Homo sapiens: one gene and its partners. The protein of the gene in region 5 interacts with the protein of the main gene of each other region in a pairwise test. Each region holds a gene or a part of one and is shown on either strand. Other genes may lie near its edges. The genes, in order: TNPO2, TXNDC9, MEIS2, PLEKHB2, C1orf94, AKAP9 and IPO11.

The links.
Region 1: the proteins of C1orf94 (region 5) and TNPO2 interact in binary tests that used the Homo sapiens proteins (3 or more experiments, as listed by UniProt).
Region 2: the proteins of C1orf94 (region 5) and TXNDC9 interact in binary tests that used the Homo sapiens proteins (3 or more experiments, as listed by UniProt).
Region 3: the proteins of C1orf94 (region 5) and MEIS2 interact in binary tests that used the Homo sapiens proteins (3 or more experiments, as listed by UniProt).
Region 4: the proteins of C1orf94 (region 5) and PLEKHB2 interact in binary tests that used the Homo sapiens proteins (3 or more experiments, as listed by UniProt).
Region 6: the proteins of C1orf94 (region 5) and AKAP9 interact in binary tests that used the Homo sapiens proteins (3 or more experiments, as listed by UniProt).
Region 7: the proteins of C1orf94 (region 5) and IPO11 interact in binary tests that used the Homo sapiens proteins (3 or more experiments, as listed by UniProt).

The regions. Positions count from the first base shown.
Region 1 is NC_000019.10:12,706,933-12,710,432, reverse strand, and holds part of TNPO2 (transportin-2), read left to right. Parts: intron 1-3,500. UniProt on the Homo sapiens protein: Probably functions in nuclear protein import as nuclear transport receptor. Serves as receptor for nuclear localization signals (NLS) in cargo substrates.
Region 2 is NC_000002.12:99,322,834-99,326,333, reverse strand, and holds part of TXNDC9 (thioredoxin domain-containing protein 9), read left to right. Parts: intron 1-3,500. UniProt on the Homo sapiens protein: Significantly diminishes the chaperonin TCP1 complex ATPase activity, thus negatively impacts protein folding, including that of actin or tubulin.
Region 3 is NC_000015.10:36,898,050-36,901,549, reverse strand, and holds part of MEIS2 (homeobox protein Meis2), read left to right. Parts: intron 1-3,500. UniProt on the Homo sapiens protein: Involved in transcriptional regulation. Binds to HOX or PBX proteins to form dimers, or to a DNA-bound dimer of PBX and HOX proteins and thought to have a role in stabilization of the homeoprotein-DNA complex.
Region 4 is NC_000002.12:131,125,836-131,129,335, forward strand, and holds part of PLEKHB2 (pleckstrin homology domain-containing family B member 2), read left to right. Parts: coding exon 1-70; intron 71-848; coding exon 849-951; intron 952-3,500. UniProt on the Homo sapiens protein: Involved in retrograde transport of recycling endosomes.
Region 5 is NC_000001.11:34,183,407-34,186,906, reverse strand, and holds part of C1orf94 (uncharacterized protein C1orf94), read right to left. Parts: intron 1-3,500.
Region 6 is NC_000007.14:91,943,862-91,947,361, forward strand, and holds part of AKAP9 (A-kinase anchor protein 9), read left to right. Parts: intron 1-3,500. UniProt on the Homo sapiens protein: Scaffolding protein that assembles several protein kinases and phosphatases on the centrosome and Golgi apparatus. Required to maintain the integrity of the Golgi apparatus. Required for microtubule nucleation at the cis-side of the Golgi apparatus.
Region 7 is NC_000005.10:62,482,263-62,485,762, forward strand, and holds part of IPO11 (importin-11), read left to right. Parts: intron 1-838; coding exon 839-1,031; intron 1,032-1,747; coding exon 1,748-1,900; intron 1,901-3,156; coding exon 3,157-3,200; intron 3,201-3,500. UniProt on the Homo sapiens protein: Functions in nuclear protein import as nuclear transport receptor. Serves as receptor for nuclear localization signals (NLS) in cargo substrates.

The DNA of each region.
Region 1 (3,500 bases), on a different chromosome or scaffold from region 5:
CTCTTGTTCATTCTTGCAGGCAGGTAGTTCTTTCATGTTGTAAGCATAATTACAGCAACAATGATAATAACAGCAGGCACAGCTGCATGCTTGCCTCGTGCACTTATGTAGACAAACATCCTTGGCCCTCACCACCACCTGATGAGCTGGGTGCCGGATCCCAGTTTCGAAGATGGGGAAACTGAGGTACAGAAAGATTGATGCCACTTCCTTACAGTCACTCAGGGTGTGTCTGGGCCTTAAACCTGTTCCTGGCTGCCGGGCTGGCCTGCCAGAGTCAGTAGTAACCCGTGGTAGGTGGTGTTTCATCAAATTCAACCTGGTGTTCTGTAATCGGTGGGGTTTTCAGGCTCCCATGGTCCCGGTGGGACATAAAACTTGTTACAGGAGGGCTTTGTGAGTCCGTTGGAGGCATCATATACCATTGCCTCAGCATCCAGACCTGTGCCAAAAATTTCAGGCATGGCAGCAAAAACCCTCAACCTTGTAAGCTTTCAAAATTTGTCTAAAATTTGTCTAGTTACTGTGGTGCACGCCTGTAATCCCAGCTACTCAGGAGGCTGAAGCAGGACAACTGCTTTAGCCCAGGAGTCCGAGACCAGCCTGGGCAACATAGGGAAACCCTCTTTCTACAAAAAATTTTTTAAAAAGGCCAGGTGTGGTGGCTCATGCCTGTAATCCTAGCACTTTGGGAGGCTGAGGCAGGCAGATCGTTTGAGCCCAGGTGTTCAAGACCAGCCTGGGCAATATAGTGAGACCTCATATCTACCAAAAAAAAAAAAAAAAAAAACCTGATAAAATTAGCCGGCGTGGTGGTAAGTGCCTATAGTCCCAACTAACTGGGAGGCTGAGGTGAGAGGTCAAGGCTGCAGTGAGCCATGATTGCGCCACTGCGTTCCAGCATGGAGAACAGACTGAGACCCTGTCTCAAAAAAAAATTGTCTAAAGAAATGTTTCGACATGTAATATGTGTTTAATGTATCTCATATCTCATGTTAATAGGGTATATATCACACAATACGCTTACATATGTTAATAGATTACATAAGCTGTGTTATTTATTTATTTATTTGAGACTGAGTCTTGCTTTCTCGCCAGGCTGGGGTGCAGTGGCATGATCTTGGCTCACTGCAACCTCCGCCTTCCAGGTTCAAGTGATTCTCCTGCCTCAGCCTCCTGAGTAGCTGGGACTACAGGTGCATGCCACCACGCCCAGCTAATTTTTTTGTATTTTTAGTAGAGACAGGGTTTCACCACGTTGGCCAGGATGGTCTCTATCTCCTGACCTCATGATCTGCCTGCCTTGGCCTCCCAAAGTGCTGGGATTACGGGTGTGAGCCACCTTGCCCAGCCAGCCACCACGCCTGGCCTCTTTTTTTTTTCTTTTTTTTTTGAGATGGAGTCTCCCTCTTATCGCCCAGGCTGGAGTGCAGTGGTGTGATCTTGGCTCACTGCAACAACATTCTGCCTCCCGGGTTCAAGCAATTCTCCTGCCTCAGCCTCCAGAGTAGCTTGGGATTGCAGGAATTCACCACCAGGCCTGGCTAATTTCTTTTTTTTTGAGACGGAGTTTTGCTCTTACTGTCCAGGCTGGAGTGCAATGGCGCAATCTTGACTCACTGCAACCTCTGCCTCCCGAGTTCCAGAGATTCTCCTGCCTCAGCCTCCCAAGTAGTTGGAATTACAGGTGTCCACCACCGCACCTGGCTGATTTTTGTATTTTTAGCAGAGACGGGGTTTCTTTCACTGTGTTGGTCAAGCTGGTTTCGAACTCCTGACCTCAGGTGATCCATCTGCCTCAGCTTCCCAGAGTGCTGGGATTACAGGCGTGAGCCACCGCACCCGGCCTGTATTACATGTTTATGGTAAAAAGATCTATAGGAGTTGAGCTCAAACTGGTAAACATAGATCTTGTGTCTTGGATTATTGGCAATGTGCTATTATCTTTGTTCTCTTTAAATAAAAGAGCAGAGTTCGTGATATTTTAAAAAAAAAAAAAAACCCTGGGTGTGGTGGCTTAAGCCTGTAATCCCAGCACTCTGGGAGGCCAAGGCGGGTGGATCACCTGATGCCAGGGGTTCAAGACCAGCATGGCCAACATGGCAAAACCCCATCTCTGCTAAAAATACAAAAATTAGCCAGGTGTGGTGGTGCATACCTGTAGTCCTAGCTATTGGGAGGCTGAGGCACGACAATCACTTGAACCTGGGAGGCAGAGGTTGCAGTGAGTGGAGATCACACCACTGCACTCCTCCTTGGGGGACAGAGCGAGACTCTGTCTCAAAGAAAACATTAAAAAATTGTTAAAAATGGCTGGGCACAGTGGCTCACGCCTGTAATCCCAGCACTTTGGGAGGCCGAGGCGGTTGAATCAACTGAGGTCAGGAGTTCGAGACCAGCCTGGCTAACACGGTGAAACTTCGTCTCTGCTAAAAATATGAAAAATTAGCCACACGTGGTGGCCCACGCCTGTAGTCCCAGCTACTGGGGAGGTTGAGGCAGGAAAATTGCTTGAATCAGGGAGGCGGAGGTTGCAGTGAGCCAAGATTGTGCAACTGTACTTCAGCTTGGGCAACAGAGCAAGACTCCGTCTCAAAAAAATAATAATAATAAATTAAAAAATTAAACAAAAATAAGGAGAAATAGAACAATCATAAACGGCCAGACACCTATAATCGCAGCACTCTGGGAGGCTGAGGTGGGATCACGTGAGGTCGGGATTTTAAGACCAGTCTAGCCAACATGGTAAAACCCCGTCTCTACTAAAAATATAAAAATTAGTTGGGTATGGTGGCGGGCGCCTGCAGTCCCAGCTACTTGGGAGGCTTAGGCAGGAAATCACTTGAACCCGGGAGGCAGAGGCTGCAGTGAGCCCAGATCACACCACTGCACTCTAGCCTGGGCAACAGAGCAAGACTCCATCTCAAAAAAAAAAAAAAAAAAAAAAAAAAAAGAAAACTCACAAACATCTTAAGAACTGTTTCAAATGCAAAGTGCTTTTATTCCATTTGGGTCACTGCTGCCCCATAAAACCCCACTCACTATGTAACGGAGCCAATTTTGAATTAACACATGAATTCAATTAACACATGAATTAATGCATGAATTGAATTAACGCAATAACACGGAGCTCTTTGGCTGGGCGCGGTGGCTCACGCCTGTAATCCCAGCACTTTGGGAGGCCAGGGCGGGTGGATCACGAGGTCAGGAGACTGAGACCATCTTGGTCAACATGGTAAAACCCTGTCTCTACTGAAAATATAAAAAATTCCCCGGGCATTGTGGCAGAGGCCTGTAATCCCAGCTACTTGGGAGGCTGAGGCAGGAGAATTGTTTGAACCAGGAGGTGAAGGTTGCGGTGAGCCATGATCGTACCACTGCGCCCCAGCCTGGGCGACAGAGCGAGACTCTGCCTCAAAAAAAAATAAAGATAACCCGGGGCTTTGGGATGAGAGGCTTCTGTTGTTTCCCCTCCTGTGCCTGCCTTTACCTGGCTCTGT
Region 2 (3,500 bases), on a different chromosome or scaffold from region 5:
CTTGATCTCACAACCCAACAGCTTCATTGTTAGTTAACACCTTTCAAGAATTGATTGCCTGGTATTCATTGACTAAGAGAATAAAAATGAAACAAAATATTGAGATGGTGAAATCCCTTGTGAGGAACAGTGAGAGAAGGGATTAGGCAGGTAGAAAGGTATCAGAGAAACCTCTGCCCTTATGGTACACAACCATCTCGCATTGGCACACATTCCTCAAGTTGCCAACCTCTGACAAATATGATGAGGTGATATATAAATATACTAGTATGTAAAATATTATTTGTCCACTTGTTTTTTTTTTGTTGTTTTTTTTTGTTTTTGAGACAGAGTCTTACACTGTCACCCAGGCTAGAGTGCAATGGCAGGATCTTGGCTCACTCCAACCTCCACCTCCCGGGTTCAAGTGATTCTCCTGCCTCAGCCTCCCGAGTAGCCAGGGCTACAGTCACCCACCACTACACCCGGCTAACTTTTGTCTTTTTAGTAGAGACAGGGTTTCTCCAGATTGGCCAGGCTGGTCTCAAACTCTTGACCTCAGGTGAACCACCCACCTTGGCCTCCCAAAGTGTTGGGATTACAAGTATGAGCCACGGCACCCGGCCTCACTTGTTTTTTTTATGTCTTTCCCAACTAGATTGTTCGTTTTGTAGAGGCAGCGCATTTGCCTGTATTGTGACCTACTGTTCTCTGGGATCATAGCCCTAAAGCAACTGCCTGACGCATAGTAGGTGGTCAATAAATACATTTGATGGTGTATAAACAGTGCATCACCAGGAGTACTCACCTTCAAACAGAACTGAAAAATCAAAATCATCCAGTGAACTTTATATATTAGCAAAGTTCCTAGCACATAGTAGGCAGGATGCTTTCATGTATATTATCCCTAGAACATTCACAATAATCTTCAGAGGCACTTATTATTATTCCTGTATTTCATGTATGGAAACCAAGATTTGGAGAAATTGACTCACCTAGTATCACTCAGATACTAAATGATAAAAAAAAGAGAGAGATTGGAACCCATGTTTTAAGCCTATTGCTATTTTTTTAATTTTTAACTTTTGTGGGTAGTAGTAGGTAAATATGGGGTACATGAGATATTTTAACACAGGCATGCAGTGTTTAATAATCACATCAGGGTAAATGGAATATCCATCACCTCAAGCTTTTATCCTTTGTGTTATAAACAATCTAATTATGCTCTTTTAGTTATTTTTAAACATACGTAAAGGCCTATAGCTATTTATACCATGACTGTTGTTTTGGATTTTTAAAAATTGATTGACGGGTTGGGCGCCATGGCTCATGCCTGTAATCCCAGTACTTTGGGAGGCTGAGGCAGGTGGATCATGAGGTCAGGAGATCAAGGCCATCCTGGCCAACATGGTGAAAACCCATCTCTACTAAAATACAAAAAGTTAGCTGGGCATGGTGGCTCGTGCCTGTAGTCCCAGTTGTGCAGGAGGCTGAGGCAGGGGAATTGCTTGAACCTGGGAGGCGGAGGTTGCATTGAGCTGAGATCGTGCCACTGCACTCCAGCCTGGCAACAGAGCAAGACACTCTGTCTTGCTCTTTAAATACAAATTAAAATTAGCCAGGCAATGGTGCGGGTGCCTGTAATCCTAGCTTCTTAGGAGGCTGAGCCAGGAGAATTGCTTGAACCCAGGAGGTGGAGGTTGCAGTGAGCAGAGGTCGTGCCACTGCACTCTAGCCTGGGCGACAGAGCGAGACTCCATCTCAAAAAAAAAATACGTTCCTTACTGCAGTTAAAGTATGGAGTTGATTTATTTACAAATTTTCAGGAACATATTTCTCATATAAAGGTTGATTTATCATTTGTTTTGAGCTTTATTTAAAAACCATTTATTAATTTGTTCTCTCTTACCATTTTTCACTGAAATCTCGTTACTGAACTACATGAGTAACATATGAAAAAACATATCCGGGGAAAAAGTGATGAGGCACCAAGGTTACACATAACTTATGTTAGAGCCAAACTTAGTTCAGGAAAAACTACATCAAGTGCACAAAAAGCTTACTGGTAAAAATAACCATGAAGTATTTTGTGTGTGAGTCATCTAGAGGTAGTTCTCAAGCTTTATTTGAGCATAAGAACAGCTGTATGTTTCCCAACTCCACTGCCAGAGAATTTTGATTCATCTGGATATTTTAAAAGTTGACGGCAGGCTGGGTGTGGTAGCTCACACCTCTAATCCCAGCACTTTGGGAGGCTGAGGCAGGTGGATTGCTTGAGGTCAGCAGTTCAAGACCAGCCTAGTCAACATGGTGAAACCCCATCGCTACTAAAAATACAAAAATTAGCCGGGCGTGGTGGCAGGTGCCTGTAATCCCAGCTACTCGGGAGGCTGAGGAAGGAGAATCGATTGAACCCAGGAGGCAGAGATTACAGTGAGCCGAGATCGCGCCACTGCACTGCAGCCTGGGTGACAGAGTGAGAGTCCAACTCAAAAAAGATGAATAAATAAAAGTTGATCATAATGAACACCTGGGGTTAAGAACCACCGGTCTAAAAGATTGTTACAATAGTCTGTTTTAGAAACACTCGTGAATTGGCCAGTTGAAAATGAATTTTTTGAGACAGAGTCTTACTCTGTCGCCTAGCCTGGAGTGCAGTGGTGTAATCTTAGCTCACTGTAACCCCCACCTCCCAGGTTCAAGTGATTCTCGTGCCTCAGCCTCCTGTGTAGCTGGGATTTCAGGTGCCCATCATGACGCCCAGCTAATTTTTGTATTTTTAGTAGAGATGGGGTTTCACCATATTGACCAGGCTGGTCTTGAACTCTTGGCCTCAAGTGATCTGCCCGCCTCAGCCTCCCAAAGTGTTGGGATTACAGGCGTGAGCCACTGCATCAGGCCAGAAAATAAATTTTAATGTAAAGAAGATGTCACTTTTTTTGTTTGTTGAGATGGAGTCTCACTATGTTGCCCAGGTTGGAGTACAACGGCACAGTTTCGGCTCACTGCAGCCTCCACCTCCCAGGTTCAAGTGATTCTCCTGCCTCAGCCTCCCAAGTAGCTGGGACTACAGGCATGCACCACCACACCCAGCTAATTTTTGTATTTTTAGTAGAGACAGGGTTTCACCGTGTTGGCTAAGCTGGTCTCAAACTACTGACTTCAAGTGATCCGCCTGCCTCAGCCTCCCAAAGTGCCAAGATTACAGATGTGAGCCACCGCACCTGGCCAAGAAAATCTCACTTCTGTTTCCGTCTTCATTGGAAGATGGCTTAATAAAAGTTACTACTGGTAGGCTGGGTGCAGTGGCTCACGCTTGTAATCCTAGCACTTCGGGAGGCCGAGGCAGGCGGATCACAAGGTCAGGAGATCAAGACCATCCTGGCTAACACAGTGAAACCCCGTCTCTACTAAAAATACAAAAAATTAGCCGGGCATGGTGGCAGGCGCCTGTAGTCCCAGCTACTTGGGAGGCTGAGGCAGGAGAATGGCATGAACCAGGGAGGCGGAGCTTGCAGTGA
Region 3 (3,500 bases), on a different chromosome or scaffold from region 5:
CTCATTCATTTACCTTACTTTGCTCACGGTTGTCTGTGAGAAAGGAGCCATTGTCTGGTCACCAGTGGAAAACTTATGTCTGCGACATGACTCCATCATTTGCGTGCCCAAGTTCATCTTCAAAGGCATTAAGCTTGCCTTATTCACTGATTTAACCATTTTAATGTATCTTACTGAGAAAATCCTACTCTCAGCTGTAACCATAGCACAGAGAAATACTTGCTTTTTTTGTAAAGTAAGAAAACATGGAGAAATTTGATAAGTGACTTGCCAAGGCTGAAGTTTCATCATTTGAAACACCAGCCAGGAGCAAGTGCTGTGAATAAGCACTGTGGCTGATGGGTCCCAGGGCTGGGGACAGTAGGGAAGCAGGGCCTTTTCATGTTTTAACAGGTCCCCGGTCACTGAGCTACCTACGCCTTTCCCCAGTTGATCTGATCTCTCTTCAACGGTTCAGTCCCCTTCCCTGCGCAAAGCAATCCATGCAGAATCTTCAATTCCAGCTATTCTTGATTCCTCCTCAGAGTGTTCAGGGATGGCAGCTTTCCAGGTAACTCCATGGAGGCCTGCACTTTCTAACAAAAGGAATGCCTCCAAAAGGAGTTGGTTACCAGGTGTGGCATGAAGTTAGTGAACCAGAAAGAAGGGATTTATCCGCCATTTAAAAAGATTGGGGGGTGGAGAAAGAAAGGAATAAAGAAAAGAAACCAACAACAAACAGGAATGACACCTAAATCTACTTCTATCAATCTGAACCATACTTCGGAGTAAAAAGTCTTTAAAGAAAAATCATGATGGTCAGAGTTCAGTTGTAGAAAAGTATGCAAAGCTACCAAGTTTAGACTTTCTGAGGACAGGAGAGGTCTCTGGGAAATAGCTCTTCAGCAAGGCAGTAAGATGAGATTACAGTGATATTTGCTACCTTGGGTTTATTTGTTTTAATGTATTTTTTCATCTCTGAGTTGAGTCAGAAAGGCCTCGTGATTCTTGGAACATCATTGAATTTATTTCTATAATTAAGTTATTTTTAAACTAACAGTCTTAGTATATAATTTTTAAGGATCACACATACTCATGCATTTTCTACTTAAGTAAAATTTAGAGAAAAAGTAGATAGTCTTAGTAGATACTCTCCCAAGCTTTTGTATGGGCCTGGATACTAACTTTGTGTTCAATACAAATCAATGGAACTAGGGCTCTTTAGGGTATTCATTCCCTAAGGACTCACTAATGAAATTATGTGTAGCCCTTTAAAAAAAGTCACAATGAGGCTAATGAAAATTTTTTTTCTAAGTGAAATCTAGATAGAGCTAGACACTAAGCTTACTGGTACATTTTATGGACAAGTTGTAAAAAAACTCAGAATGTTTTTTAAGAACTGTTTAATATTGAAGAAGACTTTGTAACTTAAATTGTTTAAACCGATAGAAAAGTAGATTATATGCCTGCAACTTCGAAATCATTCTGGTATGACATTAAAACTTAGAGAATTTTTTAATATCAGATACAGATGAAAAATCTAACAGTCTTTGGATTGGAAATAACTTGTGGGGGTTTTCATTAAAGTTGGGTGCAGCTTGCTGCATTTTGGTTAGTTGGATGTCTTCAGCAATTTTTCAAATGTTTTGGGTTTGGCAAAGTCCAAAATGTTTTTTGCCAAGACCCTCTTTTCCCCTTATTTTTTAAACCCGTGTGAAATTCAAGGATAACTTAATCCATATGTGTCTGATTCATTTACACTTAACTCATCAAAATGTTATTTTATAAGGCCCATTTAATATCCATGGAACCTTTTGAGTCTTTTTAAGACAAGTCTTTTGTCTTTGAACCAGCAAGTTACATTTTTCCATATGAATGGAGCCTGAACCTTGAAAGACTGAAGATGAGTTGATTTTCAACTTAGCTTCTTCAAATTTTACGTAAAATCAAAGCTTGATATTCTATTTACTACTTGAGCATTGAAAAAGGTCATTCTAAAAAATATAGATTAGAAGATGTGGAAAAAAATTTATTTCATGTAATTTTGAGAAAAGACCATATATGGAAATTTCATCTTACAAATATTAAATAAATAAAAATTATTTCTAGTTTGATTTGTTTTAGTCTATAATTTAAATGGCTCCATGTTATGTATGTCAGTGTATTTTCTAAGAGTGGCCTCTGAGTCATCAGTACTGGTAGGAGGCGGTAATTTCATTTTTTAATGTCAGGGTTTTCTTACAGTCAGCTCATTAATTGTTAATTTTCATAGTAATATCTATGATGTCAATAAAATATCCCAAGATCAGGGGAATTGACAATTGGCAGGAGTTGCATGTTAAGAGATTTCTGAAAATTTGGGGCCCATATGTTTTTAAAATTCTGTGTGATTTGAAAGAATGTGGTAGAATTATGAATCTGTCAAGAAATAGCACTATGGATCAAAAACATTGTTTGAGAACAAAAATCCAGAGAGGCTAAATGGTGCCCAAGTGAAAAAAGCAAAATCTCTGTGACCCTTTTTAAAAGGACCTAGTGAAAACCTTCAGAGGCTTCTATTCATATTTGCTTAGGAGAAGTGGGTAAAGAAAGGCCATTGCCATAACTGCTAGTGAACATCCAGTCCATGCCATGGTAACTAGTTGAAAATGTTATACTGGAGTGGCATTTCCAAGTTCAGTGCTTCTATAAAGACCTGCTAGCTCACAGAATGCTTTTTTAATGTTCTGCATTGTTGTGTGTCCCCCATTGAACAACCTTTTGAGCGGACCTCGTTTTTACTAATGTAAACATTCTGACTAGTATCCAAAGAAATGACCTTTGAGTGAACCTCTAACCTTCCCCGTAAGTATTTGTTTGAAGACAGTGTGGAGTTCTCCTGCTGAGAACTAAGAACCATGATGCCTTGCAGCTCTGTGAGTAAGGGAGTGTTTGGGGGAACTGGAGAGAAAGACATAAATAAGGGAACAACCTCCAGATGTAAAGAATAAAAGAGTGAAATTAAAAAGGGAAAAAAATAGCAATTCGTTTTACCCGAAGAGTTAGCCTATACCGAAAAAAAAATAAAAATAAAAAACGCAAAACACAAAAACCAGGATTAGTAGCACATAAAAGGGGGTAAAACCCCTGCCGAGTGTTGTCCTCTATTAGAAACTTCAAGGAGAAGAGCCTTCTCTGACCCTCCTGAGCATCTCTGCTGGTTTCAAGGTGAGCTGATAAAAACGGTTCCTGGGGTGGAAATATCAGGTCAGTCCTCCTTGGTTGCTGTAAAAGTGGTGGGGAAAGAGTAGATAATTAAGTTCTTTTTCTGATTGGAGGAGGGATGCTTCTGGAAGTCTTTGTGATCTAGTCAGATATTCATTCCTCAGCAACATTTCAGGTGACAGGTGGGAAGAAAGATGCAGTTTCAACTCTCCTTTTGTTTTCACCTCTACATAGCTGATCACTTTCTTTTTTGACAACTGAGCTACACTTTCTTAAGTAATAAAGAAGTCCATTGTTTTGCAAACAAACACCATATG
Region 4 (3,500 bases), on a different chromosome or scaffold from region 5:
CAGAATATCGAGGATAAGGTCCACATGCCAATGGACTGCATCAACATCCGCACGGGGCAGGAATGTCGGGGTAAGCTGGCCTGTCTTGGCCAACTTCTGTCTTCTGCTCTTCCTCTGTCTTGCTGGGAGCTTGGTCCTCTTCCTTCCCTGTTCTGCTTTCATTAACAGATTGAAGAAGGGCTCCATCTCAGAGGGGCGACCACAGTGGGGCCCCAGGCACTTAGATTATGAACCACATGGTCGGGAAATATCAGTGTTCTCAGTCCACGTCCCTCGTTCTCGTGGAGAGGGAGCCAGAGCTCTGGGAACCTCAGGAAGCACAGGCCACCCTAGACTACGTTGATTTTGTACTCAGAAACTGGCTTCTGTTTGATGGTGACTCCAGTCAATTGCTTAAAATCTGGGATGTTGGCCAGGCATGGTGGCTCATGCCTGTAATCCCAGCACTTTGGGAGGCCGAGGTGGGTGGATCACGAGGGCAGGAGTTCAAGACCACCCTGGCCAAGATGGTGAAACCCCAACTCTACTAAAAATACAAAAAAATTAGCCAGGTGTGGTGGCAGGTGCCTGTAATCTGGCTACTCAGGAGGCTGAGGTAGAGAATTGCTTGAACCCGGGAGTCAGAGGTTGCAGTGAGCCGAATATATTTTGTGGACGTCATCTTGGCAGCTGGTCTTGTCAGTCAGCCTAGCTATGTTCTTTCTGCATTCTTGGAAAGGCAGAGGGTTCTTTCATAGATGTAGCACTTGATTTATTGTCTAGTCCTTTGCTTCTCTGAGCTGGTAGTTCTTAGAAAATGTAAGAAGAAATCCTGAAAAAAGTTCCTTTATTCTGCTTATTTTTCATAGATACTCAGCCCCCGGATGGAAAGTCAAAAGACTGCATGCTCCAGATTGTTTGTCGAGATGGGAAAACAATTAGTCTTTGTGCAGAAAGCACAGATGATTGCTTGTAAGTTTTGCTTTCTTATGTGTTTAATTTAAAAAGTATTTTCTATTTTAACTTCTGATTACCAAAAAATGAAAAGAAAGGGCGTGGAGTTTTCTTTCAGGCATCAGAATAAGGGACTCAGTGGATGTATGAGAGAAATGCAAGAGTCGCTTTTCCAATTCTAGTTTCTGCCTCTCTCAGACTGCCTAGGCCGATCCCATTGTGGTGAAAATGGCAGAAAGGAATAGCAGTCTCATCATGCTGTCTTTCATTATTAGATTCACAGTGGGTAACGGGCATAGTTGAAATAAAATGACCAGAAAAGCAAGAAAGTAAAGAGTAAGGAAACTGTCAGTTCCTAGGGCTGCTGTCACAAATTGCTGAACACTGAGTGACGGAAATGGCAGAAATTCATTGTCTCATAGTTCTGGAGGCTGGAAGTCTGGAATCAGTGTGTCAGCAGATCCTTGCTCCCTCTGAGATGCTGGGTAGGATCCTTTCTTGCCTCTTCCTAGCTTCTGGTGGTTGCTGGTAGTCCTTGGTGTTCTTTGGCTGACAGCCACATCACTCCGGTCTCTGCCTCTGTTGTCACATGGCCTTCTTCGGCTGTGTCTGTGTCCAGAATTCTCTTTTCTTATAAAGGACACCAATCATAATGGATTAAGGACCCACCTTAATTCACTATGACCTTATCTTAATTTGATTCCATATGCAAATATCCTATTTCCACATAAGGTCCCATTTGAGGGTACTGGGGATTAGGATTTATACATATCTTTTTCATGAGGACACAATTGAACCCATAATAGAGACTTTTGAGAAAGATGGTGAAATGGATTAGAGATCATCTTCCCTGAGGGGAAAACATTTCAATGGTGCAACCAAATAAAGAAGTTTGATCTCAAGCACAAACTACAAACAGTTAAAGAAAGAAATAGATGATTCTACTGAGATGTTCTTCAATCCTACCCGAATCCCAGAAGCAGTGACAAGATGAGTTAATTAAATCTTGCAAATTTTCAGTATTACCCTGTAATCTGGAGTGATGCTGATTAAGTGTAAGTTACTTTTTGGAAAAGCTAGGGAAAAAATCCTTAAGAATGTGATGTCCTTGGGGCCTCAGCAGAGGCTGGACGGTTCTCCCAGGACTCATCATTGCAGGGCAGTGAAAGGCACTGAAGCTCACAGGAGTTGGGTAATTTTCTGTCTGGTGAAGTGAGCCCTAGCATGGGACATTCAAAGGAATATGCTCAGAAGAGAGTGTAGGACCCAGAGTTTTCAGAAAAGACTTACTCGGTCTCAGAAGAAATGTCCTTCTCTTCTAGCCCTGTGCCCTCAGATTACAGAATGTTGATTGTGAGGGTAACACCTAGCCATCAAACTGTTGCTGGGCTGGACTGAGGTAGAACAGGGTGGAACTACCAGTTGATACCAGATTAGGTAGGAAGCGTGTCAAGGAGAAATAACTCATACTTTATGAGAGCAAACAGCAGTTTTAGATATCACTTCCCATGTTAAACGTGAGCAGGATGTAAAGAAGTGGCTTGGCAACTATGCAGATATACCATGAAGGAAAAATAAGAAAAGGAAAATGCAAGCCTCAGGAAAAGCTCCTAGAGTGGAGGAAAATAAAACCCAAGAAACAGGAGCAGAGTCTTCAGGAATGCTTTCCTGGCCACCATATTTAAAATTGTATCTCCCTGTCCCCATACACACTCACCATCTATCAACTATTTATCTTGTTCATCATCTGCTTTCATTAGAATATATGCTGTGTGAGGGCAGAGATTTATGTTTCTTTTCTGCTCTTTTGTGTCTGTAACTTAGAAGGTCTGTTGCTGTCAAGAGGGTGCCATTCACGTTATAATCTGAAGAAAGTGGTCTTCCCTTCAATACAACCCCAAATGAAAAGTGAATCATTGGCATGGAAGAAAAGACTGGAGATACTCTCAGTGACAGGAAAAAGATGAAAAGATCAGAGATATGTTAGACTAAAAAAAGTTCAGAAAGATTATTGATGTCCATAAAGTGTACAACCCAAAAGAGAGAATTACAAATCTAAGGCAAGAAAAATGTTCTGAAATAATCGAACTGAATTGGCAGACCAAAGTCCCTACTAGACTCTTCCACCTGATATGACAACAAAATCTATATAAGATATATGAATAATCCAGTATGATACCCTTTAGCAAAGTGAATGACAATGGTATGCCACATACAAAATCAGTTGGGGAATTTTGCAACTTAACTGCATTCCTTAGAAAGCTAGAACACTTGGGCTGGGTGTGGTGGCTCAAGCTTGTAATCCCAGCACTTTGGGAGGTCAAGGCGGATGGATCACCTGAGGTCAGGAGTTCGAGACCAGCCTGGCCAACATGGTGAAACCTCGTCTCTACTAAAAATACAAAAATTAGCCAGGCGTGGTGGCAGGCACCTGTAATCCCAGCTACTTGGGAGGCTGAGGCAGGAGAATGGCGTGAACCTGGGAGGTGGAGGTTGCGGTGAGCCAAGATCACACCACTGTACTCCAGCCTGGACAACAGAGTGAGACTCCATCTCAAAAAAAAAAA
Region 5 (3,500 bases):
CTGGGCACTGGGGAGACAAAGATGAGTAAGACACAGACCTTGCCCTTAAGAAGCCCATAGTGCAGTAGCGGAAGAGGAATTGTTGCCACAAGGCAGCACACGATATGTGCCAGGTGCCCACCACCTCATCAGAATCCCACACTGGAACTGGGCTGATAGCCCCGATTAAGGGGCTGTGTCCTTCCCTCTGGCCAATGGTCAAGAAGAGAGCTGATTTTAAACAGATTCTTCCATTCTATCGTCCTCAAAAGATCTATCCCATGTAGCTCTCAGAGCTGGGGAAGCATTTGTCTCTTATGATGACCCCTTCTGCTTTCTCTTAGAAGACAATATGAGTTATGAAAACCGAATGCTATGATCTCCCTTTATGCCCTGGCTGCCAAGAATCTCAAACCAGATGCTGTTATCAGTTGAGCAGTTTCCCTTCAGCCTAAGTTTCCTGGCATATATATCTCCTTGTCCCATATCAATCATGTCCTGTTATTTTATCCATGATAATGACAATGATGATGGTGGAATGGTGATGATGATGATGAACATCGAGTCCTTCTCTTATTCCCAGTGCTGTGTGAGCTCTACATATATCATTTCATTTGCTTCCATAGTAATCCCTTGAAATAGTCGCTGTGACTTTTCCCATTTTTTCAGATGAGGAAAATAGGGCACAGAAAGTTTGGGGAACTTGCTTACAGCTAGAAAGTGTGCTGGAACTCTAATCCACCTGTCTCCTTATTTTTTGTTATCTGGGCCACCTTAAAACACTTAGGAAAGAGGTGGGACATAGTTGTTTATTTCAATTAAAAAGAGGAATGTGGGAAAAAGAGAAAGAAAAATGTTGAATGATGTGAGCAACAAAGAATTCAGAGGACAACACACTTATTCTAGGTCCTTAAGGATGGATAAGATTTAGATAGACAGAGATATGGGAGAAGGGCATTCCTGGTAGTGGAATAACATGAGCAAAGGCAAGGTGACATGCACCTGCTGGTAGCTCTTGTTGGTTTATAGAGCATGTGCAGGAGACCAGCAAGACGTGCATCTAGAGATGGAGGCAGGGCCACTACAGAGACCCCTGAAAACCAGGCCCAAGGGGCCAGAGGACAAGGCGAGCCATGAGAGATGTCTGAGCAGTGCTGTTGACCTGCTTCAGAAGATGAAATTGGTGAAGGGTGGAGGGCATCCTGGAGGGAAAGGCACCCAATGCAGTGAGAAGAGATGTGGTGAGGGTGGCAGAGGAGAGACGAGCAGGGAGGCAAGGCACCAAAGGCCATCATGAAGGGGGACTGCCAGGACGTGTGGCAGGCTGGAGGAGGGAAGAGCCAGTGTCTGCCAGCACTAGCTCACTTGACAAACAAGAACAGGGGTGCATCAGTGTCAATGGGACTGGGGTGCTGAGACCCAGCATTGGGAAGCTCAAGAGAGGGAAAGGCTGGGTGCAAGGGCTCACGCCTATAATCCCAGCACTTTGAGAGGCCAAGCCAGGTGGATCACCTGAGATCAGGAGTCCGAGACCAGACTGACTAATATGGTGAAACCCTGTCTCTACTAAAAATACAAAAATTAGCCAGGCATGGAGGTGCATGCCTGTAATCTCAGCTACTTGGGAGGCTGAGGCAGGAGAATTGCTTGAACCCGGGAGGTGGAGGTTGCAGTGAGCCAAGATCGCGCCACTGCACTCCAGCCTGGGTGACAGAGCGAGACTCCATCTAAAAAATAAAAATAAATTTAAAAATAAAGTAAAATAAAGAGAGAGGGAGACACTTGCTTAAGGGTTGGGTCTCAGAGCAAAGGGTTCCAACTTGTGGCCCACGGGGTCTCTGAAATCATTCCCAAATACTGAGAGATGTGAGGATGTGTTTCAGACAAAAGCTGCACAGAAGCTTTTTCTCAGATTTTCAAAGAGGTATTGACCCCTCCAAGAGGAGAAAACACTAGTTGAGATTAGACTCCAAAGATCTTCAGAGCTGGCTTCTAGTCTGAGACATCAGCCTGAGTTTCCGTATCTGAGTCTTGTCTTTATCACTCCCATCACCAGGTTTCAAGCTTTTTAAAGAATAATGCTAAAAAAAAAACCAAAAAAAACAAAAGAGGCTATGTATTCCAAGCAACTTTTCCAGAGAAGTCGGGTTCACCTAATTGTTTAAATAACAGTAGCACAAAGAGATGTTTGTTGGGAGAGCCATTCAAGCAAGGAAGCCGAGTGGATTCCCAAATATCACTTGCTCACCAGTGTGGAGAACTGGCCAATGGAAGCCAACAGTGAAAGTTTACCAAAATAAGTGCAAAAAAGCCTTCTTCCTTCTTGCAACAAATAGCCTCAGAAAGCTGCCAATCAATAAACCACTTCTGTTTTTCAAAAAATGCTTAAACAGATTTCTTTTATTTCAGTAGATTTATCTCCCTACCTGAGTCTGGCTTGGAATAATGCTCACCAAAGCCTTTCCACTCTGCAGACCAAGTTTGTTATGACAGGTAAATGGGAAAGTCTTGGGTGCTGACAGAGGGCCTGGAAGCATCCAGGGAAGCCAACCACACCCAGCAAGCTCGAGCCACCTTCTCCCGGTCACTAACACATGCTACACTTCACTCCCATGTAACTTCTCATCTTTCCCTGCGCCTGCTGCTGGGCTCTTTCCATAGGCTGTTCTTTCTCTCTTCTCAAGACCTAGCTGGGGGACATAACTATGGAAACCTTTGCAGTTATTAATCATGACATCCCTGCTACCTGCGGACTACACCCGCATCTTTCATCACACAGTGCAGGGGTCTCATCTGTTGCTGCTTCAGATTGCTTCCCTCAGAGGAAGACTTCCCTAAGTACCAAGCCCAGTCCAGTAGTCAAGTACAATGTTCAGTCATGTGTCCCCTCAGTGCGCTTCCATGGCACTGGCACTTCATCACCAGAACACTTACTATAGTGTGTTGTGATCTGCCTTTTGCAAGATGTTGAAAGTTCATAAAGGAGGTCAGAGACTGTCCCCAGCTTTTCCACCATTGTATTTTTTTCAGACATTTCAGTAATAGGTGCATACTAATTTTTTTTTTTTTTTGAGACGGAGTTTTGCTCTTGTTACCCAGACTGGAGTGCAATGGCACAATCTCGGCTCACTGCAACCTCTGCCTCCTGGGTTCAATCAATTCTTCTGCCTCAGCCTCCTGAGTAGCTGGGATTATAGGCACCTGCCACCACGCTCAGCTGATTTTTGTATTTTTAGTAGAGACAGGGTTTTACCATGTTAGCCAGGCTGATCTCAAAACTCCTGACCTCAAGTGATCCACCCACCTCGGCCTCCCAAAGTGCTGGGATTATAGGCATAAGCCACCGCACCTGGCAATATTTGTTGAATGTCATTGTTGTCAGATGTATCTGTGTTCATGCCACCCACTAGACTGGGAGCTCTTTGAGGAAAGGCTTCTGTTCTGCTTATCTCTGTGTCCCTGGGACCCATCATACAGCCTGGTACTGCGAAGGCAATTGTGTTTGTTGAATGAATTCATGA
Region 6 (3,500 bases), on a different chromosome or scaffold from region 5:
TTTATCTGAGACTTCATTCTGCAAATGTCTCATTTGTTCACTGGACTTAAGTATTGTATTTGATAATCTAGTTTTGCAAACCACAACTTACAAATCTTTTTGGGGGTAATTTATTGATAAACAGTTCCATTGGAAAATTCCCTTTCTGTATCTAAACCTTATAAATGATCACTTTTTAAACAGTTTGTCATGTATGCAGTATAATATATAGTATACTGTATAAAATGTTTTATACTACCCCAAATCTGTAATAATGGGTTAATAAATTATGATATGTAAAATAATTCTACAAAGACTTTTTGAGTGTGGAAAATGCCCACAAATAATGCCAGGTTAAAAAGAAAAAAGTTACCAGGAAAAGGTATATGTACATATTTAAATATGAAGACACCTGAAAAAAAGCACCAAGATGTAAATCGTGGCTATCTCTGGGTGGTGGCTTATAGGCAATTTTAATTTTCTTTATACTTTTAGTATTTTCCAAATTCTTGATACAATGTATCTCTTTTATGACCAGAAAAGAATATTCAAATGCCATTTTTTTTTTTTTTGAGACAGCCTGTCTCCCAGGCTGGAGTGCAGTGGCAGGATCTTGGCTCACTGCAGCCTCCACCTCCCAGGTTCAAGCGATTCTCCTGCCTCAGCCTCCCAAGTAGCTGGGATTACAGGCATTTACCACCACGCCTGGCTAATTTTTGTATTTTTAGTAGAGATGGGGTTTCACCATGTTGGCCAGGCTGGTCTCGAACTCCTGCCGTTAAGTGATCTGCCTGCCTCGACCTCCCAAAGTGCTGGGATTACAGGCATGAGCCACTGCACTCAGCCTCAAATGCCATTTTTTAAAAAACATAAAGGCTTATCAAATACATTATATTAAACACATGTTATAGTGTATGACCATTATCCAGAACAGGAAAATGAGGCACAGAATAACTAGGTTTCCTATTTTAGCGTAGGCCTGGAATTGTAATTGCTATTTCAGTGCAGAGTGTATAATATAGTTGGGATTATATTGTTAGACATTTTATAGATTTCCTTTCTGTTTTTGTTGTGCTTATTCTTTCCTTGCTGTTAGTTCGTATTGCTATGGGCATGCTCTTACTCCTCATCTGCCTCTTTTCCTAATTTGCTGTTTTAGATTTGCTACGACTAAGGAACCCAGAACTGAGGTTGACAGAATACTATGTAAAAAGAAAAAACAACAACAACAAAGACCTTAGGCGGGGTGTGATGGCTCACTCCTGTAATCCCAACACTGGGAGGCTGAGGTGGGAGGATCGCTTGAGCCCAGAGGTTCTAGATCAGCCTGGGCAATGTAGTGAGACCCCATCTCTAAAAAGAAAAAAGTATAAAAAACAAAACAGGTGGGGCGCAGTGGCTCACACCTGTAATCCAAGCACTTTAGGAGGTTGAGGTGGGTGGATCATCTGAGGTCAGGAGTTTGAGACCAGCCTGGCCAACATGGCAAAACCCCGTCTCTACTAAAAAATACAAAAAAATTAGCCAGGCGTGGTGGCAGGTACTAATCCCAGCTACTGGGGAGGTGGAGGCAGGAGAATCACTTGAACCCAGGAGGTGGAGGTTGCAGTGAACCGAGGTTGTGCCACTGTACTCCAGCCTGGGTGACAGAGCAAGACTCTGTCTCAAAAAACAAAACAAAACAAAAACAGAGGCCAGTGTAGCCTGCCCAGTGGGCTTTAGGGCAGTTTAGTTTTTCTGCTGCTTGTTGGTTGTTTTGGTTTACTGTTGGGTCCTCAGCTATTTCCTCAGTATTGATGTTGCAAGAAGCATGACCCTGGGAGATGTGAGACATTACTGCATTATGTATTAAGTAAATATTTTCAGAGCTGGGCTAGCTCCCTCTGCAGTGTTTTGACGAGGATGGCACTACATAGGTTGTCCTTGTGTTGAACCAAACTATTTTAACTCCATTTTAAATGACTTCATTTTTTTCCAAGTATAATTATTCATGGCACGTAAAGGAAGTATTGTAATTTAAGTGAACAGAATTAAATAGAGGACAGTTGTATATTTAATATAAAATTATTACTCATGTAAATTTGCATTAGGTATACTTTTTAAAGTTATTCAGTATTTTATATAATGGGCATTATTTGCTGAATAATTATAAAAAACTACTGTCTATTATATTCAGTAATTTGTAATTACATGACTTTTGTTTAACAAACATTTTCAGTGTGAAGAGTAGTTCCAATTGTGTACAAAAAAAAGGATGGTGCTCCATGCAAGCTGTATATTGATTATTGATAGCAGGACTTTTCAGTTACTGTTTCCACTGTGATAGACAAAGCTGGTTATGGTGTAAAACTGTTCTTTGCATATTTCAGATACTTTGTTCCACAGCTAAGAAAGTGTTTTCCCTTCCTGTTTTAAGCATTCTAGTTTTTCATACTTAGATGTGGCAGAGCTTACTTAGCATTCCGAGTAGATGCAGCAGTTTGATAGCTTCATCAACATTTATTGCAGCAATAGTGCAGTGCCTGTGACTTAAAACTAATTCATAACCTTCAGGCTTTTTTTTTTTTTGAGACGAGATCTCGCTGTGTTGTCCAGGCTGGAGTGGCAGCCTGCCTTGACCTCCTGAGCTCAAGTGATCCTCCTGCCTCAACCTCCTGAGCACCTGGGACTACAGATGTGCACCACCACACCTGGCTAATTGTTAAAATTTTTTTGTAGAGATGGGATTTCACCATGTTGCCCAGGCTGGTCTTGAACTCCTGGGCTCAAGCAATCCTCCTGCCTTAACCTCCCAAAGTGCCGAGATTATAGGGGTGACCCACTGCACCCAGCTTAGGCTTTGTCGGAATGAAGCAAAACATGGTGTTTAGAGAGAGAATGTGGAGGAAGGAACGTGATGCCCTGTCAGTGAAACTGAAAGTTGAATGATAGCTCATGGAAAGAGGAAGTGAAAAAGGTAGGATACATCCAAGTGATTGAAATATGACAAGAATGGAACAAAAATTTTTTCAAACAAAAACATCTCTTATTTTATAAATAAAAAGGTTCATAGTAAAAGCTAAACTATGTCTACAAAATATCTATTATAGGCTACTGAATATTGAAATGTAAATGAATTTCTTCTAATATAGCTAGAAAAGGTTATGGTAAATTGCTAAACAATAAGGGACATTATTTATATTCATTTCTTAGTAAGATTCCACTAAAATTAAGATTAGTCACTTTATGTAATTGCTTAACATCCATTTAAAAACTATAATTTGGAAAAGCTACGGAATTTTTCAAAACTTATTTATAAAAGTGGTTTGGTGTCTGGGGTGTGTGTGTGTGTGTGCGTGTGTGTGTGTGTGTGTGTGCTGGAGAGAGGGAGAAAGAGAATTTATAATACTGCTATCTGGTCTGGTAGAAATGGCACTAGGACTTTGGAGACATTTATGTGTTCATTTGTTCAACCAACATTTTTGAATGCCTACGACTGCAGCTATGAACTTTTACTTAGCAAGCATTTTTTTTTCCCCCCG
Region 7 (3,500 bases), on a different chromosome or scaffold from region 5:
GGTTTTTTTGTGTCTCTGTCTCCTTCAGTTCTGCTCTGATCTTAGTTACTTCTTGCCTTCTGCTAGCTTTGGAATGTGTTTGCTCTTCCTTCTCTAGTTCTTTTAATTGTAATGTAAGGGTGTTGATTTTAGATCTTTCCTGCTTTCTCTTGTGGACATTTAGTGCTATAAATTTCCCTCTACACACTGCTTTAAATGTGTCCCAGAGACTCTGGTACATTGTGTCTTTGTTCTCATTGGTTTCTTTTTCTGTGGCTAAGATTGATGAGTGATCTATCAAATTTCCTCAGCAGCTTTTCTCTTATTTTAACAGCTGTTGATCATCATTTGCCTAGATCCATTATTTGATCAGGAGTTACACAATGATGGCATTCTAATTCTGTTATTCCTTTTGCATTTATTAGCTGAAATTCTTCTATAAAGAAGACATCTCCCTCCTTAGCTATTTGATAACATTAAAATATAATTCATATGGGAAAGGGAAGATAATATTTAAATTCTTTACCTTAGTCTATTACTTTTAAAGGTCTATTGTATATTTAAGCGTTTTGTATCATATTCACCCATTGTTATAAAATTAAGTATGAATTGAGTCTGTTTTGGTTTCTGTATTGAAAATAATAGAAAGTTCTTATTATCAGATATAATCTAACATAATCCTCATTATATGATGTGCCTCAAGAAGAGTTATGATAATGTAAAACTGAGTGAACATAGACTCCACACTAAGGTTCAAACTGCTAAATGATTATTAGTAAAGTTATAATTGGAGTGATTATATTCCAATATGAATTTGGGGAAAATACATTTTAATTTTTATTTATTTATTTTTCTACAGCTTTTGGACTTCTTGGATCAGCATCCTTTTTCATTTACTCCTCTAATTCAGAGATCACTGGAATTTTCTGTAAGCTATGTTTTTACAGAAGTTGGTGAAGGCGTTACATTTGAACGATTCATTGTCCAATGTATGAATCTTATTAAGATGATTGTCAAAAATTATGCTTATAAGCCATCCAAAAATTTTGAAGGTAATTCCTTTATTGGCAGTTTAAAAGAATTATTTTAATCTTAAGTGTGATATAATTGCTATAATTACAAACTTTTTAAAAAATGTCATTTTAGTCTGAAAAATAAATTGTTGCTGGGACATGAAAAAGATATAAGGATTATAGGCTTTAGTATGTTTATACTAGCTTTTAAAAACAACATAGTGCATTTAATAAGCCATTTTTTGTAGCACAAATTGGTTGAAGCTTAGGGACTTTAAGAATTAGGTACTATAGTCATCACTGCAGCTCATATTGTAGGGTGTATTCATTTGAACAAATAAAAGCTTTCTCTGACTTTATATAAAGTGTGATTGTTTCTAGACAGGTTAAATTGTTGTATTATTTGGAATTCATTCATATGCGTGTGTGCCAAGATGAATGAAGAAGTCTTGGTGGTGGGGGAGAGAGAAACACATGCACACACCCCCCACACCCTCTACATTATGAGGAAGTTATTTCAGTATGCCGTGATGGTATTGCATGGTAATATATAAGCTGTAATGCCAGAGGCAAGATTGATGTGAGTGTGTTGTAAGGAAAGAGTATCTTTGAGATTTGTTTATAATAAAAATGAAAATTTATACACAAGTGTATCTTCTTCCCTGAGAGTGTATTTTTTATTTATTTAAGTTACATAATCCAATGTAGCTACAATGTTTGGCTATACAATTAACTTGGAAATTTCATTTTTCTAGATAGCAGCCCTGAAACTCTTGAAGCCCATAAGATTAAGATGGCATTCTTCACATATCCTACTTTGACAGAGATATGTAGAAGATTAGTCTCTCATTATTTCCTATTAACTGAAGAAGAACTGACAATGTGGGAAGAAGACCCAGAAGGCTTTAGTAAGAATTAATTTTTTAGTGTTAGAATGACTTTTCTCCCCTTTCTATAAATATCTGTTTGAGTGATAGGTATAATATTGTATTTTCATACAGCACTTTTGATCTGGAAATCTTGGTGTTTTAAAATTAACTTACTCTTTCGTTGTTATCCATTAGAACAAATTGAGAAGCAGAAAATGAATGACTTATGCAAATATGTTGTAGAATTTTGTCCAGGAAAAGACCTTTTTAGTTTTTGGATTCCTTTACAAATATATCATGTAGTTTCAAACAAAAATATAAAATTAACTCTCTCTTACCCTGTCAGTTTCTATTTTGTGATTCATTCCATGTTATTTTTTATTTGTAGAAATTCTTGCAAAGAAATTTGGAGGTTTTTGATGAATAGTTTTTTTTTTTTTTTTGGACAGGACATCTTTATATCTGTTTGAATTTTAGTACTAGATAGATAAGTAGAATAAGTCTGTTGGGACCCTTGCTATAGAAAATCAAGGAATCATGTGTCTAATAAAGTACTTACTTGTATGTGAATTACTTAAGCTATGGTGGGACATAGGCTAGATTTTAGCCTCCCTTTTCTCTTTGGTTGTGTACCCTTGTGTAGTTACACGTTTCCTAATATTTTAAGAGTGCCCAAAAGTTTTTGTAATACTTATCTTCGCCATGCTTTTGGTTTTTAAAAGTAATTTTAGTTTTAATACAGGATTGTACTGTACAACATGTCTTTTCTTGTTTTTTTTTTTGCTTTTTTTGAAACATCTTTTTTCAATTTGCTTTCTTTATATAGTACATACAACATTGTAACATAAAGTGTTGAGTCCCTAAATTTTTAAGAGCCCTGAAGTATTTTTCTTTAAATTCAAGAAATTTATGGAGAGTGTGAGTAATCATTGTACCTAGTGAAACATGATTACTGTATTGAAATGAAATGATTCTCAGAATTCTAGTGATATTGGATCAGGTGATAGCAGATACCCTGGAAATGACAACTACTTTGAGCTTTTTTCCATAAAGAATTTTTATCGAAAATGAGAATGCTTATGGATATAGTAAGCACTTAATAGACGACTGTGAGATACACAACTGTGATCTGTAGCATATAGTAACAAAATCTGTGTAAGGCCTGTGTTCCCAAGGCTTTGCTCTTAATGTTATGTTTAAAAGAGTTCACAAAAATATTATACTGATGTTATTAAAATCTTTGTTTTCTAAACCAAGATGTTGAAAATGTCATTATTACATATTTTTAATTGCAGCAGTGGAAGAAACAGGAGGAGATTCTTGGAAATATAGTTTGAGGGTAAGTATTAATTGCAAGAAAAATTGATAGGGGAAAGCTTAATCTTTCTAAAGCTCTTAGTAGAGAATGACACTCTATTAAAGATTCCAGACATTTGCTGGGCATGGTGGCTCACACTTTAATCCTAGCACTTTGGGAAGCCAAGGTGGGAGGATCGCTTGAGGCCAGAAATTCAAGACCGGCCTGGTAAACATAGTGAGACCCTGTCTCTGCAAAAAGTAAAAAAAGGAAAAAAAAATTAGACCAGAGTGGTGGCGCATACCTGTAGTCCCAACTCTTCAGGAATCTGAGGCAGGAGGA